Regions from separate parts of the Homo sapiens genome. Here region 2 is linked to region 1. Evidence: fine-mapped expression QTL. Tissue or cell type: aorta. Region 1 holds a variant in brackets; the other region holds the start of a gene. All regions are shown on one strand. Distances are from middle to middle.

Region 1 (2,843 bases):
ACTCCAGCCTGGATAACAGATTGAGACTCTGCCTCAAAAAAAAAAAAAAAAAAGAAAAAAAAGATTTATGGGCAAAGAAGCAAAGCAAAGCAAAGAAGCAAAGCAAGCAATGTCTAAAGAATGAAAAAGGCCAGACATGGTGGCTCATGTCTGTAATCCCAGCACTTTGGGAGGCTGAGGCAGGTGGATCACGAGGTCAGGAGATTGAGACCATCTGGGCCAATATGGTGAAACCCTGTCTCTACTAAAAATACAAAAATTAGCTGGGTGTGGTGGTGCACACCTGTAATCCCAGCTACTTGGGAGGCTGAGGCAGGAGAATCACTTTAATTTGGGAGGTGGAGATTGCAGTGAGCTGAGATCACACCACCGTACTCCAGCCTGACGACAGAATGAGATGCTGTTTAAGAAAAAGAAAAAAAAGAAAAAAAAAAGAAAGAAAGTATGACTGATTGACTGATGTTTTGACAAATAGAAATATCAATAAAGAGATCAAATTTTGTTTAAGAAGAGAGAACCAAATAGAAATTCTAGAGTTGAAAATATAGAAACTGAAATAAAAATCCACTAGAGTGGCTCAACAGCAAACTTGAGCAGGCAGATGAAACAATCAGTGAACTTGATAGATTGAGATTATCCAATCTAAGGAACATAAAGAAAAAAGAATGAAGAAAAGTGAACAGTTTTTAGAGACCTGTAGGACACCATCAGTCATACAAACATATGCATAATGGGAGTCTCAAAAGAGAGGTGGGAAAGAGGGATAAAGAATATTTGAAGAAATAATGGCCAAAAACAGTTCAAGTTTGATGAAAAATATTTGTCTATGCACCCAAGACCTAAAATAACTCCAAATAAAATAAAACCAAAGAAATCCATACCTAGATACATGATAATCAAACTGTGTTGAATCTTTAAAGCAGCAAAAGAGAAGTGACTCATCACACACAAGGAATTCTAAATAAGATTAACACGTGATTTCTCACCAGAAATCACGGAGGCCAGAAGGCAGTGGGATGATATATTCAAAGTGCTGAGAGAAAAAGATTGTGAATCAAGAATTCCATATCTAGAAAAACTATCCTTCAAAAATGAATGAGAAAATAAGACATTCCTGTATAAACATATCCTGAGAGAATTCATTGCTTTAAAATCTGCCCTACAAAAAAATACTAAAGGGATTAATGCAGACTGAAATGAGAGGACAGTAAGCAATAACTCAAATCCACATGAAAAATAAAAAGCACTGGTGTGTTAGTTTCTGAGGGCTGCTGTAACAAATTACTACAAACTGGGTGGCTTAAAACAACAGAGATTTATTCTCTCACAGTTCTAGAGGCTAGAAATTCAAAATCTGGCAGGGACACATTTTTTCCAGGGCTCAAGGGAAGAACCCATTCCTTGCCTCTTCCAGTTTCTTATGGCTTGCCCAGAATTCCTGGGCTTATAGTTACATCAATCCAATCTCTGCCTTGTCTTCACATCACCCTTTCCTCTGC[G/A]TCTGTCTTCTCCTGTGTGTGTGTATTATAAGGACACTTGTTAGATTTAGGGCCCACCTGGATGATCTCATCTCAAAATCCTTAACTGTCTTACATCTTCAAAGATCTTTTGTTTTTTCTTTTTCAAATAAGGTAACATTTTCATAGGTTTTGGGGTTTGAGACATGGACATATTTGTAGGCGGCCACCATTTGCCCCTCTACAATCAGTAAAGGTAACTACATAGGTAAATAAAAAACACAGTGTAAGTATATTTTTGTAACTTTTTCCTCTTAACTAATTTAAAAGATAAGTGCATTAAACAATAATTATAAAATCTGTAATGATAGGCAAACAATGTAAAAAAAGGTGTAATTTATATGACAGTAACAGCACAAGGGGGGAGAAGAAACGGAACCATACAGGAGCAAAGTTTTTGTATATTTTTGAATTAAGTTAGCATTAATTTAAACTAGAGTTTTAAAAGTTAAGGTGTTAATTGTAATCCCCAGGGCTACTACTAAGAAAATAAGTTTTAAAATATGATAAAATAAGCAACAGGGGAATTAAAAGAAGTCAGTAATGGAGGAGTAGAAATCAAAAAGGCATAAGACATATAGAAAACAAATAGCAGAATGGTAGAAATAAGCTCTGCCTTATCAGTAATTACATTAAATGTAAATAAACACTTCAATTAAGAGGCAGAGATTGGCAGAAGACATTTTTAAAAATGATTTCTGTGTTTCTTACAAAAGACACATTTAGATTTAAGTACACAAATAAGTTGGCAGTAAAAGGATGGAAAAAGATATACCATGCAAACAGTAACCAAAAGAAAACTGGAACCACTATACCAATATCAGATACAATAAACCTTAAGACAAAAATTATCAGTAGAAAACAAGGATATTTGATAAGTATTATAAATCAATACACCAAAAAGGTATAAAAATTATAAACATATATGTACCCCAAAATAGACTTTAAAAGTGTATTAAGCAAATACTGATAAAAGTGAGGAAAGAAATAGACATTTCAACAACAATAATAGTTGGATAATTCAACATCCCACTTTCAATACTGGCAAGAAGACATACACAGAGATAAACAAGAGAATGAAAGACTTGAACAGCACTAAACCAACTAGACCTAACGAACCTCTCTAGAATACACCATGCCAAAACAGCAGAGCACATATCTTTTCAAGCACACATGGAACATTCTCCAGTATAGACATATGTTAGGCCATAAAGCAAGTATTAATACCTTTTAAAAGATTGGAATCATTCGAAGTATTTTTTGTAACTACAATGGAATGAAATTAGAAATCAATAACAGAAATGTAGGGAATTCACAAATTTGTCA
Region 2 (2,649 bases), 60 kb before region 1:
GCCTTAATCAAGCTGGCAGGTGGGCCAGGCCTGGCACACAAGTAGGGCCTCAGCTAAAACAGCTGCTTGACTTAGTACAGCCTCTCACCAGCTGACAACACACCCCTAAGTTCCATACCCCTCTCTAGGCCTCCGTCTTCTCATCTGTAGAATGGAGCTAATTCTGCCTACAAGTTTAAATGGCCCTGAGTTGGTCACCACAACCCTGTCGTTTGCAAACCGAGGGGGCTGAAGCAGCAGTTCCAGCCTCTGTGACTCCACTGTTAGCCCAGCTGATTTTTGTGAACTTTCCCCCAAACCCACTGTGTCTCAAAGGATGGTCCCTGGGCCACCCACCCACGAATTACGGGGGCGTGGGTGGAGGCTCGTTAAATGCAGATCCCGGGCCTGACCCGGACCTGCCGTCTGGATCTCATTTTAGGCGGCGCTAGAGATCCCGGGCCAGGGAAACTTGAGAACCGCAGCTCCAAATCGCCAGTGCTGACGGCTTCCGCTTTGGGAGCCCCAGGTGTTGCTGTCCGAACTCACTTGGTGGAAACAGACATTTACCAGAAAGCCTGGGGTCGGGCAGCGGGCACTCCTACCGCTCTAACCCCGCGTAGCTGAAAGAATTCGCTCCCTCAAAGGAGTCAGTGAGCTTCGGCAGTCTGCGTTCCACCCGTTTCGCTTCGCGCGGCGGGGCGATTGTGTAAAGCGGGCCCGGGTCTCGGCGTCCAGCCCGGCCCCAAACCTCCGGCCCCCAGGCCTCTCCGGGCTAGCGGCCGGGCGGCGCTGCTGCGGGGTGGTCGGGGCGCCTCCGCGGCTACTCACCCGGGGCGACTCGGCCGAGAGCCCGACAGTCGGGACCGGAGCGGGAGGAGCGGGTGGCCGCGGCCCGGCCCCTGCCCCGCGGCACTTTAACCGGCGGCGCCGGCGCCCCGCGCGCTCTCTGCGTCCGGAATGGGGACGCAGCAGTTCCGACCCGGTCGGCCCCGGAGCCGCGAGGCTAGCTGGGCTCCAGCGGAGGCGCGCGAAGCCCGAGGGCGGGTGCAGCTGATGCACCTGGCTCACTGCATGCACGTGTGCGCGGGGGTAGGCGCGCGCCGCGGCGGCCCGTGCTCCGCCAGCGCTCGGACACGGCCCATCCCTCCGAGCCCCAGCAGGCGAGGGCGCTGCGACCTGCCCCAGCCTGGGAGGGGGCCAGCGGGCCCGCCCTCTGTTCGGGTGGCGGGAATGGGTCGGCGCTGCGAGAGGCGGAGCCGAGAAGGGGCGGCCCGGCGGCGCCGGGATAAAAGCGCAGCGTGCGGGTGGCCTGGATCCCGCGCAGTGGCCCGGCGATGTCGCTCGTGCTGCTAAGCCTGGCCGCGCTGTGCAGGAGCGCCGTACCCCGAGAGCCGGTAAGCCCCCGCCAGCACCTCTTCCCTCATCTCCCGGCCCTCGAGCCCAGATCCTGACGTCGTCTGATCCGCCAGTCCAGGCTGCCCCGAAGGCGTGCGCGGACTGCCGGCTCAAGGGGCATGCCTGCACCCTCAGGGCAGCCCCGGACATCGGCGTCAGGTTGCTTGAGTCAGGGGCGTGGGAATCAGACAGACCCGGTCTCAGATGCCACCCTGTACTGTTGGTTCTGTCATTTATGCTCACCAAGTTCCAAGTCCCGAACGGTAAAACGAAGGGCAGTACCGAACCCACCAGGGTCTCTTAAGGTATAACGACATGGCCTGCAATTAGCGGCGAAGGGCCTGGCACGTAGTTATTGTTACTTGGGGTCTGCTCACCTGTTGGGGCACAAGAACTGTTTCTCCATTAGTACCCCCTCCCTTTTTGGCCATATTGATTGCCATGTTCACTCGTGAAGGCAGTTGCCTTTCTTCCCCAGTACCCTGAATGATCGAGGGAATCTTCTGGGTCACTGAAGAGAAAATAGCTCATCCCCCAAATAACCTTTGAAATGATACCGCTGCCCTCTTAGAATAGCATATAGCATCAAGCTCCGTAGTCACCTGCTGGTGGACAAACCCCATTCACTGTTTCCTGATGTCTTCAGCTCCTATCCTTCCCCTCTGTGTCAGTTCAGAAGCCCTCTTGGCTCTTTGCACTAAAGGGAAGAATTCATCCCTTTTGCTGTAGTTGCTGCAAGGCCAACAATTTGAGCTTGGTAGCATTTAGGGTTGTTGCTTGGCCTCTCACCGGCCGTTTGATAAGAACTCAGCTCCTGGTATGATGGCTCATTTGTTAAAAAAAAAAAAAAAAAGTCAAGTCTGGCCGGGCTCGGTGGCTCACGCCTGTAATCCCAGCACTTTGGGAGGCTGAGGCGGCCGGATTGCCTGAGGTCAGGAGTTTGGGAACAGCCTGGCTAACATGGTGAAACCCCGTCTCTACTAAAAATACAAAAAGTAGCCGGGCATGGTGGCAGGCGCCTGTAATCCCAGCTACTCCGGAGGCTGAGGCAGGAGAATCACTTGAACCCGGGAGCCAGAGGTTGCAGTGAGCCGAGATCTGCGCCACTGTACTCCAGCCTGGGTGACAAAGTGAGACTCTGTCTCAGAAAAAGGAAAAAAAAATCTGATGATATCCCTTAGAGTTCATTTTTTAAAAGACAAATAAATGATTGACAATTTTGCCCAAACTCAAATCATTCAAACCATCAAAAGGAGATCTTAGAAGGTGTTT

Evidence for each region. PIP is the estimated chance that this variant, and not a neighbour inherited with it, causes the effect.
Region 2: CHDH starts here. The variant in region 1 is fine-mapped to the expression of CHDH in aorta (GTEx, PIP 0.90).

Annotation. Positions count from the first base shown.
Region 1 is chr3:53,905,638-53,908,480 of GRCh38, forward strand. No RefSeq gene overlaps it. Among named protein-coding and RNA genes, the nearest start is that of SELENOK, 15 kb to the left of the region's middle. The variant G/A (reference allele first, on the strand shown) is at 1,500.
Region 2 is chr3:53,845,273-53,847,921 of GRCh38, forward strand. CHDH (choline dehydrogenase) reads right to left here and starts at 1,147. Exons shown (of 9, transcript NM_018397.5): 1 at 811-1,147. It overlaps IL17RB (interleukin 17 receptor B), which reads left to right and starts at 1,296. Exons shown (of 11, transcript NM_018725.4): 1 at 1,296-1,376. The coding sequence starts at 1,317. RefSeq lists enhancers at 1-262, 263-1,103, 1,050-1,344 and a silencer at 695-1,344.